4 linked regions of the Homo sapiens genome follow. The protein of the gene in region 1 purifies or fractionates together with the protein of each later gene. This does not show direct contact. Each region holds a gene or a part of one and is shown on either strand. Other genes may lie near its edges.

Region 1 (3,500 bases):
AGGTAGGATCAGCGCAGCTGGTGGACCACCCTCCCCTCAGCCCTTGGCTTGGCTGGGGCTGCTGTGGTCTTCCTGCTTAGGGGTTCTGTGATTGGTTTGCTGCCAGGCCTTGCAGGGACCCCCTCTGCCATGGTGCACCCCACCTGTTGCTGGCAGGCTGGTCGCTGGCTATTCTTGACATCTGTCCTTTGGATCTTCACTAGGGCCTTGCTGATCTTATGCATTTTCAGTTCCCATAGGAAAGGGGCCCCGGGCCTCTCCCTGAGCTTCCGGAACCCTGACTCTCCTTAGTAACACTCTCACCAGCGCTTCCTCCCTGCAGGGCCCTGGGTGTCGGCTCACCACACAGACACCAGGCAGAGCCAGCACTACCTGCCCCTGAGAGACGGACCTTTCTTGCCCTAATGCTCACGACCACAAAGGGGACCCATGCACGTCTGCACCCTGGGTCACAGGAGAAAGGTCCCTTGTCCTTGATGAGTCCTCCCCGCCGGAGATGATCAGCACAGAAAGCCCCACAGTTCCACATGTGTTCCTTGATTCCAACATACCTCACAGTTTGCTGACCCCGGAAGTACTGCTGGATTATCAGGGCGGCTCGTCTCTCTCGGAGGAATTTTTTCCTCTGGAGCCAGCCACGCATGTGCTTTTGTACCATAACACAACTCTGCCTCAGTTTATCCAATCGAAGTTTCTCTAAATAAGCCACTTGTCCTGCTCTGAAGAAAATTTTGGTTTTACCAAACTGGTACTGATTAGAATCCTGGAAGAGAAAAATGATATAGTTAGAATTAAAATCTGTCAGATTTTCTATAATACAGTATTTGGAAAAGAGCTTTAGGGATTCAAAGGTGCCAGAAATATTGTGATTTTGACATTTAAGGCAGAAAACTCACATCATGATCTAGAAATGTATACTTTGAGTTGTTTGTTTAAAATTACCCTGGAGGAAGAAATGGGACTTAGGCTGAGGAATCCATTTGTGGGTGAGAAGGGGAGTGAGTGTCATTTGCGGCGATTCTCAGTTGGGCTGCCAGAGAACTTCAGCCACTCTCTCGTGGTCTCCACATTGGAGTAGAAGAAACTGGGGAAGTTTGGTTTTCTGTCTCCATTTTGGGTTCTCTTCACCATCCCCTTTGCTGGACCTTATAACTCCCCATCTCTTTCCCATCACAACTCATCGCTGCAGCAATGATGTCAATCCACACAAGGCACCATGCCTGGAGCCCATGTGGCTTGGTGACAACCCCAGTTGACCATATCCTATAAGCCTGGTCCACAGAGGACTGGGTTAGATCGTGGGAGAGCTAAACAGGATACGAGGACACTGGGGAGGCCGGAGTTCGGATGTGGGTCCCTAACGGGGACTCATGGCCCACTGAGCACTCTGCTATGGTCTCTTCAGCAGACAAATGCTCAGGGCACATTTTCTTTCCTTTCAGGTGTTCATGATTACAGTCCTGAGCATTCAAGACAAAGATGAAACAGCATGTTTGGGAGATGTGCTTCCAGGAAGGAGACCATGATCCCAGGAGGTGGGGAAACTGACCTGGATGAGTCTGTGTAAAACCACCTTGCACACCTCCTTTTTATCGCTGAAGGAAAGCTCTTGCTTGGTCATGAGAATGCCGTAGCGACTGTAGAACTCGATGTATGTCCACCTGGAAAATCAAAGGGGATCAAAGCCAGGAGTGTCAGAGGAAGCACATTGTGTCTGGGGACTCCGCTGCCTTACCTGCCACTGTTGTCATAGGGCGGGGGTGGTGCAATCTGTCCTGAGGATAAAGGCACTGATCTTTGATACCCTGCCTGCCTGGGACACTACCAAGACCACCCTGAGCACTCCTGTCTGCCCCAGCAATTGTGCTCTTTCTCCCACTCAGCGTCTTCCCTAGTACACGGGGGAGGCGGTGGGGCCACCACCAGCAGCCGAGATGCAGTGATGGGGTGAGAAGGTGGTGTTGACCTCCGACCCCTACAAAGCCTATTTCTCAACCTCTTCTGGACTTCCACAGGGCAGTGGGAAAATCTTGGGGGCACTTTACAGAAGCCAAAAGTATGTGACAAAAATCATGGCAGCCATGTCCTTGGTTCTCAGCATAGCTCTGATGTCAGGTACTTTTCCCTCCAAGACAAGGACGGACAACATACCTGGAAGGGTAGCTCTGTGCACTAATGCGAATCGTTTCTAAAACGCCGCAGGCTCGCAGCTGCTGAACAATTCTTTTGGAGTCAAATCTTTAAAAAGACAATGATATTATGTGTTGAGGCATCGTAATTGCTCAACATGCCCATAAACAGGCACAGCAGACCTGGCTAGACTGTGACCCTATGCCAGGTACCCAGCAGATACTTAATAAGTTTCTATTGCATGACCAAGAAAAATAGCACCTCTGCAAAACAGTCCATAAAGATGCAGTGGGATATAGAGAAAGGAGCAGCTGACTCTGATGGAGGTGGCATTGAGAAGGCCATGGGGGAACTGGCCTTTGAGGTGAGCTTCAAACGACAACCAGGTGGAAAGAAATATGCTAGCTCGCCTGGCCCAAGCACCCACTGATGCTTGAATTTCCTCTACAGAACACCCAACAGGTAGCTCTGCAGCTTAGGTCTCACCCATCTGGTGACCCATACACACACTCACCACCTCCATAGACAGCTCATCCCCCTTTAGGCACCTCTTTCAGCTCTAGCAAGCTACAAGGGACTTGTTACACCTTATATTCACAAGCTTTGGGTCTCCTCCATGGGTCCCAGAGAACAAGAATAATGCCTCATGCCATCATGTCTGAGGACAAATGTTCTGACCTTCTATGACCTTCTACAAACACACATACTCATTCTTCTTTTAATCAAGTAAAAGGTTCAAGTTGCAAAAACTTTAGTTGTAGAAGATTCTTTCAAATCTAGCCCTTTTGCTTAGCCCTGGAGATGAGGGGGTTTAACCAGAGGGGCTGAGCTAACATTTTATGTAAAGGGCAGCATTGTTCTGAATCATTAAAAAAAAACCCAGAAACAGGGTAATCTCAAGACAATTGGAAGCAAATTCTCCAACTTTATGGCAGAAACTGCCTTCCCACGTCTTCGCTGTGTGTTGCATAAGAACACTTACTCAAAGGGTAACTTCTCATCATTTGGCTTGATGCATCGAACGTAGTGGGGCGTCGTCGCATTGAGGGTCTCCATGAGCAAGTACAGAGAGCTGCGGAACTAGGAAACAAAGCTAGAGATCAAACATGGCTCTGAAATAATTTACTGCTTACATCACGGTAAAAAGCAGCCCAACCTTGTTAAGTTACTCAATAGGAAGAAAAGTTAACCTCATGCATAAACACCTATTATGAAAGGTTTCAGTCCGTGACTGTGGTTTATCAGCATGTCCTACTGTTGTGGACAGAACACTAATACTCCCAGACAGCAGAGAACTGAATAAACCATGTTATTGTGCAAGAGCGTGGTTTGCTCCAGTGCGTGCTGCCTTGGAGGTGGAAGTATGACGA
Region 2 (3,500 bases), on another chromosome or scaffold:
TCTAGAATGTTTCCAATTATAAATCATCATTCCAAATTCAACAACAAATTCCAATTTTACTCAGTTTCTTAAAACTAACTCCCTTATTGTCCCAATCACTCAGGCTTACAATCTTGAACTATTCATTGATGCCTATTTACAATCCACTGGAATCAACTGCCAAGTCCTAGCTATACCTCCTTCAATCTCTCAAATCAGCAAAAACATTTTGACTGTGCAGAGAACTGTGTGTGGTAGGCAGGCCAAGGCCTGCAGGAGATAAGAAAATAAGCATAACACACTGTATTCCTTTCTTTAAGAACTGAAACTCAAAAAAAAAAGAAAGCCAACCAATTATTATATTTAAAATATATTGTGCCCTTACTGTGTGCCAGGCACTGTGCTGAACCATTTTCACACATTATCAAAAAACAGAACAAAACAAAACAAAACTGGGCATGGTGGCTCACTCCTGTAATCTCAACACTTTAAGAGGTCAGGGCAAGAGGATTACTTGTGCTAGAAGTTTGAGACCAGCCTGAGGCAACACAGTGAGACCCCATCTCTACAAAAAATTTTTAAAAGTAGCCACACATGGTGGCATGTGCCTGTAGTCCCAGCTACTCGGGGGACTGAGGCAGGAAGACAGCTTGAACATAGGAGTTTGAGGATGCAGTGAGCCATGATCTTGCCATTGAACTCCAGTTTGGGCAACAGAGACCCAGTCTCAAAAACAAACAAAAAAAACCTATAAGGTATACACTATCATCTCCAAATTACAGATGGGAAGAAATAAGACCTGCAGAGGTTGAAGTGTATAAAGTCATATAGCTATTAAGTGATAGAGCTTGAACTCAACAACAGATAACTACAAAGCCTTTGCTACCCGTAAATAAAATAACACGAAATATAACTGCCAGAAGAAACGTAAAAAGAAAGGAAAAAACCAATCTTTTCCTAACTTATCTCTTCTGCTCCAACTCCACCGCCAATACCAGGTTTCAGAATTTCTGCAAAGTTAGCCCTTGAATGGGCTGCTGAAGAATCATCTAGGAAGCCTATGTAAATGAATATTCATAGTCCAACCCTTGAGATTCTGAGTCACTGGGTATGGGGTGTTTCTGATGCACAGTTTTTTTAAAAACCATACTCCTAATTCTTGTTCATTCATTCATACAACAAAGATTTGAATTCCTACTATGCACCAAGCCATGTCAAACGTTCATCTTCTACGGAAGGAAGATCTAGTGTAGTGGCTCTGCCATACTTACTTGCTACAGTATCTTGGGTAAGTAGCTTAACCTCTCTTAAGACTAAATTTTCTAGCCTATAAAACAAAGATAATACTTTCCAGGTTGTTGTGAAAGTTAATGAGATAATATAAAGCATTTAGCACAGGGGCTGACATACAATTCTCGATAAATGCTAGCTATTATTATTTCCTGAGAAACACAACCTAGAGAGTAATTTTTTTCTAGAGATTAAATTTAAGCAAAGTAACAAGGAAATAGTCTAGGCATTCACATATCGGCAGGGGGGTGGGGGGGGGGAACCTAAACCAAGTAAAGATTACACAGAGGGTTTTCTCTAATTAGGTGAATCAAATTCATAAGGCTGAGATTTTTTTTTGTAAGAGTTCTTTAAACAGAAATACAGTTAACTTTACTAACAACAATGAAGCAACACATAAAGTTCTGAAAAGGCAGTCAGGAGTCCCCGGAGTGTTAACAGAAAGAACACAGGACTTAAATACAGAACTCAGGTCCAAATAGCAGATCGAACCACCTGCCAGGTAGACGGCATCAAAAAGGTAATTTAAATTCTCTCATTCTGTTTTTTCACTTATAAAATTAGGTTAAAAAATAGCTGTCACAGAAAGCATGGCCAGCAGGTCCTCCACAGGACCTTTCCGTTCTGTGCCTAAAATTCTGAACTGTGTTTTACAATAAGCCTGAAAGTTCGTTCACCGCAATATAGTATTTGCAATCCAAAGTCAATATTTCAACACAAAATTGGCAGGCAGGAAAGGAGGGAGAGTCTTTCGCTAAGTCTAAGTAAGAGTCTGACTTCTCACTAGGAGCATGTCTGTTGTACTTACTTCAAACAGCATGCAAAGCATGACTCATCAAGGAATAAGAATTTCAATGAGTGCTTTTTGGTTAAGAAGCTATTGTGAATATTTCTGCCTTTGGAGATGGCTAAAGAAATAGCATTATTAAGCCGGTGCAGTGGCTCATGTCTGTAATCCCAGCACTCTGGGAGGATGAGGTGGGTGGATCACCTGAGGTCAGGAGTTCAACAACAGCCTGGCCAACATGGTGAAACTCTGTCTCTACTAAAAATACAAAATTTAGCTGGGCGTGGTAGTGGGCGCCTATAATCCCAGCTACTTGGGAGGCTGAGGCAGAAAATCACCTGAACCCAGGAGGCAGAAGGAGGTTGCAGTGAGCCAAGATCATGCCACTGCACTCCAGCCTGGGCGATGAGAGCAAAACTCCATCTCAAAAAAAAAAAAAGAAACAGCATTATTATTAAACAATACGCACAGAATTCATGGAAGAAACATGAACTTCCCACATATACCTTCCTTCATTTACCCAGCTTTTCCCCACTGCTCTTCAAACAAGATCATTCTTATCTGCACTAATTGCTGAATTGTGGCCACAAGATGAACATACTCCTCTTTCACTGACACCTACAAGATATTTAAGCTTACATTTTAAGATTGCTAAGAAGTTGAAGTCAGTTAGCAAAATTCCTTAATCTGCTCCAGATATGAATATATCCAAGACTTTGACCATAGGGCTATATTAACCTCTGCTATCATAATCAGTGGAACTAATTTACCAATATTTTATTTACCAGGGGAAAAAAAAAGACATAAAAGGGAAAAGGAAATTCACAATGCAGCTCTGTAACCAAGCTACGATATAACAAGGAGTTAATAAGGAGCGCCCTCATTTGGCTTGAATGATGGAGAAACTTGAGTAAAAACATGCATTTAAAAAAAACCTTTAAGGCTGGGCGCGGTGGCTCACACCTGTAATCCCAGCACTTTGGGAGGTTGAGGCGGGTGGATCACGAGGTCAGGAGATGGAGACCATCCTGGTCAACATGGTGAAACCCCATCTCTACTAAAAAGAGAAAAATTAACTGGGTGTGGTGGCATGTGCCTGTAGTCCCAGCTACTCGGGAGGCTGAGGCAGGAGAATAGCTTGAACCTGGGAGGTGGAGGTTGCAGTGAGCCGAGATCGTGCCACTGCACTCCAGCCCAGCGACAGGGCAAGACTCCATCTCAAAACAAACAAACAAACAAACAAAAAAACAAAAAGCAAAAAACACATTTAAAAAACGATCCCTTCCACCGCCCAGAAAAAAAAAAACCTTAGGATGATCATACAAGTGTTACAATGTTTTTTTAAAAAATGTTTGTGAATGCCTTTTAAAGAAAATGCTTTTCTCACCACTAATAGCAGGTTTGAGTTCTGTTATTTAGTTTTCAAGCCACCAATGGGAATCTA
Region 3 (3,500 bases), on another chromosome or scaffold:
GATGTGTCCAGGGCTGCCAGGGTGGAGTGGGCAGGCTCAGCAGGGCCAATGCACCCCTTCCCATGCCTGTGCAGCTGGGCTCAGGGCTGGGGCTCTGGGCCTGGCAGGCAGACGCCAGGGGGTGCCGGGCACTTGTCTGTGGCCCACAGCAGTGGGCTGGGACCCAACGAGGTGCCCCACTCCTCGGTGTCCTGGCCCTGCTCCTGGACCACAGGGCCAGACCCTGCAGGGAAGGGCTTGGAGGCAGCTGCCCCATCCTGTCACTGGCTCTGGGCCCAGCTTTTCTCCCAATGCAGCACTTACTGTGTTTATGGCAGACACAACCTCATTCCTATGAACCCCTGCCTCCCACCCCATCTGGAGCTGTGAAAGTTCTGGGGGTGTCTCTCATCTGACCCTGCTGAGAACAATTCACAAAAGACTCCATAGAGGGGCCCTGCCAGGCCCAGGCTGGGGAGACGGGCTGAGAATGGCTGGCCCCTACACCTGCCTCTGTCCCCTGGGTCCGACAGAAACGAGGCGCCTCTGGCTTGCTTGCCTGCACAGGTAACTGCCGCCCCCATGGGCCCAGCCCCGCCCATCACTGCCCACCCTAGCTCGTCCCCAAGCATCGGTAGGACCTGGCAGCAGCCATGGAGTGGCACAGCAAGGGTTTCTCTCAAGGGACCGGGACTAACTTTGGGCACAGCCTGGGGAGACTTCCTGGAGGACAGGAAAGTGAGCTGGGGCTTAAAGGCTTAGCGGCGCAGGACCTTGGAGGACGCAAAGGCAGAAAACACGAGCAGAGGCAGAGACCAAGGGCCTGCCTGCCTGCCGGGAACGAGTCCCCTGGGTGCTGGAGTAGGGGACAGGGCGGGGAGGGAGGCGCTAGGGAAGGCGCTGGGAGGTGGAGGGTGACACCATCAGTAGGTGTGGGCCAGACCTCAAGGGCTCTGTCTGGGCTGAGGCTGAAGGGCTTGGAGCTAGGCAGGTGTATGTAGGGAGCCACTCGGGTGGATTCGCATCTCTGACTCAGTGACTCCTGCCGCCGAGGTGTGGACGAGGGCAGAGAGCCCAGAGGGTGGGAGCCAGCACAGGACGGGGAGGAAGGGTGGGGCAGAGCCACACAACAGAGAGGGGCACAGGGGGACCGCTGGTGCAGCAGTGCGGGGACTGGGGTGACCTGGAAGCCTCAGACTCGGAGTGAATGTGGATGTTTTTCCTGAGCCCAGGAAGCCAGTCCTCCTCCAGGAAGCCCTCCTTGCCTGCCTGGCTGCGCTTCCTCCTGGTGGTTCCCCAGGCCTCCCGGGGCCTTTTGGGCCTGAAGCCTCATACCAGGTCCCCAGCGTCCGCCTGGGCGGCCCTCCCACACTGCGGCTCACCCTGGGAGAGCTGGCGCACGTAGCCCTGGTTGCTGAGGATGTACTCGATGCCCTGCCGCGAGTTCATGACGGCGCGCACGCAGCTGACGCAGGTGAGCTGCAGCAGGGCGTCGGAGATACGTGCAACGCCGCGGCCCGACAGCCGCGCCAGCGCCTCCAGCAGCAGGTCCAGGCCGCTCTGCTCCAGGAACTGCACCATCCAGCCGCCGTCGCTGCCCTCCAGGCGCTTGCGCAGGCCGGAGTAGTTGACCACAGAGGGCATCTGGAGCAGCCGGATGCACAGCTCGGGGTCCGCGCTCTCCAGGTTGGCCTCCGTGGGGTCCGAATCCTGTGGCCCCAGCTTCTCCTTCAGCGCTGCCCACTTGCGCTGTGCGCCCTCCTTCACCGACATCTTGCCGAGCTGCAGGCAGAGGGCAGGGAGCCGTCAGCGGGGAGGGGATGGGGGCTGTCCTCCTGGCCACCAGCGCAGGCGGGGCCACTTCCCTCGGTCTCAGTTTCTCTGCTGCAATTCCTGCTCACGTGCCATGCTGAGGGTTAGGGGTAGCACTGTGTCCCCCACTATATCTTAGGCTTCCCTGTACCCATCCCTGACCGAATTTCAGCAACCGAGGCGGCAGGCAGGAAGGGCCCTACTGCGCGCATGAGGACCCCGAGGCTCAGGGCTGGGAGGGGAGGAGCCGGCTCAGAAACCTGCAGCACGAGGCCAGCACGGCCCCTGCAGAGTGACGGGACCGGATGAGCTTGGGGAGGACTCGGGGGAGCGGGAGGCTCCCCTGGCTGGAACATTACCCACGGTAATGATGCGACAAAACGGCGCATCTGAGGCTGCCTTATCTCACCCCAGGGCACTTCCCCCGCCCCAGTGGACAATATGGACAGGGAGATTCCAAACCTCAGGCATGCCTGGGGTGCCCACAGCGTCAGCAGCGTGGCTGGGGAGGAGGGGCGACTCCCAGGTCTCCCCTGGGCCTCAGTCTGCCCGTCTGCATGTGGGTAGGGGGCCCACACCAACAGGAAGACGGAAACCCTTGGCACTCAGGGTTTTACCAGGATTCAGTCGCAACAGGTCTGACTCCAGCCCTGGGAACACCCGGGTAGGTAACAGGCCCAGCCCAGAAGAGCCCCAACACGTGCCTTTCCCCAAAACAGAACAGCAGGACAGGCGGGTTGCACCTCTGACATCAGCTCCACGCCACCACATCCCCCCAGCCGCTGTCCCCAACCACAGACCCTGGGAACTGGCCTCGAAGGTCAGGGGCATCCCAGGCCCTCCTGCAACCATGTATGGCTTAGATCTTATATTTAGCGTCTGAGAACAGCAGCGTGGAGCCTCGGGGAGGGAGCTAGGGGGCCGGGCCTGGCAGGGACACGCTCTGAGCCTCCACCCCGGCCCAGCACTCTCCACCCTGGCCCTCGGCTTCCCACCACCTCCAAGGCAGGCACTTTATACCTCCCACAACAGGTGGGGAACTGGAGGCGGCTGGGTCCTAGAGAAGCTGGGTCTGTGCCCACAGTCCCACACCTGGGCACGGCTGGGCTGTGACTGGAGGTCCCACATGGCTTTGCTTCAAGTGCTGCCCAACCCGGTAAGTCAGGGGACCCCAGGCTGAAGGGCATTTGAGGTCACGGGAGCTGAGCGGGGTCGAGCACCCAAGCGCCTGCCTCCCCAGGAGGCTCTATTCCTCCCCTCCTGCCTTGGGAGAGTGTCCTGGAGCACCTGCCCTTGAGGTCTCAGGCCCACTCCCCAGCCTGGTCCACGACCAAGCCTGGTGTTTCCGGCAGTCCAGCCCCTACTCCCCGCACCGCCCCTCAGCCCTCCACCTGTCCAACTGCCCCAGGGGGCCAGTGGGCTCCTTCCAGGAGGCAGCCTGACAGGTGTAAGCCAGGGTTCTGATCTGCATGTCCCCAGCCCGGGCCCTCACCAGCAGACCTTGGCCCAGTCACTCATCCTGCCTGGGCCTCAGTTTCTTCTTCTGCACCTCCAGCACCAGGCTGCCAGGAGCATCCTGAGAGGCTGTCCTTGGGATGCCCCTCCTCCCTGCAGGGGGTCCTGGTCTGGGCACTGTAGAACGGAGAGCCCGGAGCCCCCGGTGCACTGTGGTTTTAAGCCACCCTCCCAGGCCCGGCCCTCTTGGTCAC
Region 4 (3,500 bases), on another chromosome or scaffold:
ATGCCCTCGGCAGGGGGAGCTGCCCGGGGCAGCCTGGCTCTTCTTCAAGACGGCCGCGCTGTTCACCGGCACGGGGCCCTCGGTGTCACTGGTGTCACAGCTGGAGATGGGCGAGTTTTCCAGGGTCCGGTGCCGGAACACTGGAGACTTAACGGAGAGAGAGAACCCCATGTGATGAGCGGTTTCTGGGCCACTGGTATTCTCCAGCAGGAAAATGATTTATTTCAAGGAAGAAATAAGTTTTGGAAATGGGCAAAAATAACAGCAGTAGCAGCAAGGACTGCCACGTGGTCAGTGCCTCACCCCCAGAGCGTCTCCTGGCATTCACGGCCGGGGGGCAGAGGCTCCGACGGGCAGGTGGAGGCTCCAAGGGGTGCTCTGACTCCCGGCTGTGCCTGGGAAGCAGTGAGGGTGGGATTCCTGCCCTAGTCTTTTGCATTCAAAGCTGGGCTCTTGCATGCAGCTGCTGCCGCCTCTAGCTGGTCCCTTTGTGCAGTGCTTTAAGGTTTTGAGCTTTTCTGGGGTCAGCGCCCTAGAGATGCTCAGGTAGCAGAAAGTGGCGGCACTCACGGCAGCACTGGCTAACGGGATGCAGCCCCACTGCGCGGGGCTCGCTGGAGAAAAGCAGGCTCCATGAGCACAGAGGCCTTCCTAGTGTTTACGGCAGCTTCCATATGCCAAAGGAGGAGGTGTTCAGGAAGGCTGAAAATAGAACAACATGTGTCCTGAGCTGCCGAGGCCCCCATTGCTGGCTCTTCCATATGGGATCCCAAACTGCTCTCTGGGGGGAAAAAAACGCCACAGTCTGCTGAGCCTTCTCTCAAATGAAGTCTCCAAGGAAGAGACGCTTCCTAGGATTCCTGCCAAAATGTGTTTGTTATGTAAAAAATATTGCTCAGGGTATATGGAATATTGTTTTAGAACAGTGTTTCAATTACCATGAAAATGGGCAGCTCGGGGTCCCCTGTGGGCTTTACTGGCCACAATCCCCAGGCAGCCAACTTGACCTATGCAGTGGCAGCCCCTGGCTGCCGGGAGGGAGCTTAGGGTAGTAGTGAGTGAATACAATGGAATGATGATCAGGACATCTGTGTCTGGCAGAGGCCAGGCTAGGCTGTGAGTAAAGGGGCAGGTGACCCAAAGACCTGCATCTCAAGAGGGGTCCACCGAATAAGCCACTCTCCCGAGGACGGCCTGGGCTGCAGCGGTGCAGAGTGCTTCCCCAGATGCGGGGACAGAGGATGGCACCAAGGACATCCTCCCTCAAAACAGAGGGGAAGTCGCAAAGCACAGTGGACTGGGAGCGGGGAAGCAGAGGCAGCAAGCCAGGCGTGGGCCCCCAAAGGATACTTGGGACAAAGGAGAAGCGAGGCGGGGGGTGGCAAGGCAGGAGCTGGAGAAGGGGCCAGAGGGAAGCTCGAGCCATGGGGGTGGAAGAATGTGGAGCCACCATAGAAGAGAGTGGGCAGCTGTGCCGAAGGGCACCGGAACCGGGGAGTGAGGACTAACATGTCCACTGGATGGGAATGCCGGGGGTCACCATGATGAAAGCAGGTGCAATGGGAAGCCACATCCAGAAAGTGAAGCTGTAGGAGGGGCAGAGGACACTGCAAGCATGCTGCAAGCATGGACAACTGCTTCCAAAGTTCACCCTGGAAGGAAAGGCAAGAACGCAGGGCAAGGGGACAGTCACCAGGGGGAGCAGGAGGCCAGGCAGAACCTTCTTTTTTTTAAGGATGGATTCAACTAGAGAATCCTTAAATGCTTGGAAAAAGCTGACAGAAAAGCTGAAGACACAGGAGAAGGATCCTCCCAGGTGTCTGGAGGTCAGGAAGGATGAGATCGAGGCACTGACCAGAGCCCAGGAAGCCCAGCCCCTCCACTCAAACAGAACCAGAGGACGGGGGCGGGACAGCTCCTCAGAGCACTCCTGCCCTGCCACCACCCTCCACGCAGGACAAAAGACAAGCAGCGTGGGGGACTGTGTGCACTCCTGCCTCAGATCACAGAGGGAGGGGCACAGGGCTCCATGAAGCAAGGGAAGACCCCTGCCCTGTCCCAGCCAATGCCTACAGCCTCACTGCCACTCTCACTGCACCTGACCCCACCATGCTCTTGTCCCCATTTATGCTGGATGAGGGACTGGGGTTGTCCAAGGCACCTCCTAGCCCTTGGATTCCAATTCCCCCTGCACCCCTCCTCCTCAGCACTGTTTCACTGTTCTCCACAGATCTGTCCGCATCTGACACCAACGTGTTTTATTGGTTTGCCTCCCTCATGAGAAGATAAGCTCCATGAAACAGGGATTCTCACCTATCTTGTTCATAACTGCAGGCCTGGAACAGTTTGTAGCACACAGAGGGAACACAGAATGTGGGCTGGGCATGGCGGCCCCCGCCGGTAACCACAGTGACTCAGGAAGTGAGGTGGGAGGATCACCTGAGCCCAGGAGTTCAAGAAGGAACACAGCATATGCATATGTGTGTATGTACACACACACACACCTTTACATATTAAATAGTATGTATCGTATAAATATATAATTGTATTTTATATATAATAGATAAATGTTGAATGAATATATGATTTTATGTAATATATAACAGTAATGTATATAATGATATCAACAAGCAATTGTTGGATGAGTGGAATGAATGAATGAATGCATGTGTATGTTTGGGAAGATGTGAATGATGTGAATGAACACAGGCGCTTCGGTGGGCACTGTGCCAAAAGCGTCCACACACAGTCTATGCAGCGACCGTTATTATTTACAGATGAAAAACTCAGGGCCTAGAGAAGTCAAGTCATTTCAAGCCCTGGCCTGTGTGACCCCAGAGCCACCTCTTGAACACCTGAAAGAACCATGCATGAGTGGCTGGGTTTGTGGTTTGGGGACAGAGCAGTGACCTGGCTGCTTGCTCAGCTCTGCAGGCGGGAGGGAGGTTGTCCTCTGGGTTGGAGGTGATCGCTGGGGTGCCACAGGAGACTGGGGCAGGGATGGGGGGATGGGAGAGGCTTGGAGGAGAAGGGGAGAGTAAGGAAGAACAGGCTGTGCGGGTGGTGCCCGGTAGGGGCCAGCAAGTGACTGAAACTCAGGGCTGCCGTCAACCCATAAATGTGTCAATCTTCCCCACAAACCCGCCCAGGGCTCATGTGGAAGAGCAGCGGTGGGTTCAACCAGGCTCAGCATTTTACTGAGGGGTTTGGAAAGAAGGACCTAGAAGGGGAGCGTTCGGGACGCAGTGGGTGGGGACCCAGGGGCACCCACGGTGTTTCGGCTGGAACAGGGGCTGAAGTCCAGCCGTCCCTCACTGGCTGCCTGTTCTGTCTGCCCTGCAGGCGTGTTTACTGCTCTGGGCCCAGTGCCTCCCTCGCTCAATGGAGTGACGGCATCCAACTCACAAGACAGGAGACTCAACAGAATGACCAAGTGGAGAAGACGTCTAAGTTCTCAGCGGTCTCAGCCGAATGACTGAAGAGGAACCAGGGACAGGGAT

The links.
Region 2: the proteins of MYO5C (region 1) and ACTR3 purify together in Homo sapiens (affinity purification with mass spectrometry; one large-scale study listed by BioGRID and IntAct). This does not show direct contact.
Region 3: the proteins of MYO5C (region 1) and INF2 purify together in Homo sapiens (affinity purification with mass spectrometry; one large-scale study listed by BioGRID and IntAct). This does not show direct contact.
Region 4: the proteins of MYO5C (region 1) and AFAP1 purify together in Homo sapiens (affinity purification with mass spectrometry; one large-scale study listed by BioGRID and IntAct). This does not show direct contact.

The regions. Positions count from the first base shown.
Region 1 is NC_000015.10:52,243,805-52,247,304, forward strand, and holds part of MYO5C (unconventional myosin-Vc), read right to left. Parts: intron 3,211-3,500; coding exon 3,113-3,210; intron 2,239-3,112; coding exon 2,152-2,238; intron 1,662-2,151; coding exon 1,550-1,661; intron 764-1,549; coding exon 552-763; intron 1-551. UniProt on the Homo sapiens protein: May be involved in transferrin trafficking. Likely to power actin-based membrane trafficking in many physiologically crucial tissues.
Region 2 is NC_000002.12:113,893,089-113,896,588, reverse strand, and holds part of ACTR3 (actin-related protein 3), read right to left. Parts: intron 1-3,500. UniProt on the Homo sapiens protein: ATP-binding component of the Arp2/3 complex, a multiprotein complex that mediates actin polymerization upon stimulation by nucleation-promoting factor (NPF).
Region 3 is NC_000014.9:104,699,618-104,703,117, reverse strand, and holds part of INF2 (inverted formin-2), read right to left. Parts: intron 1,762-3,500; 5' UTR 1,753-1,761; coding exon 1,362-1,752; intron 14-1,361; coding exon 1-13.
Region 4 is NC_000004.12:7,768,862-7,772,361, forward strand, and holds part of AFAP1 (actin filament-associated protein 1), read right to left. Parts: exon of another isoform or gene 3,343-3,500; intron 148-3,342; coding exon 1-147. UniProt on the Homo sapiens protein: Can cross-link actin filaments into both network and bundle structures. May modulate changes in actin filament integrity and induce lamellipodia formation.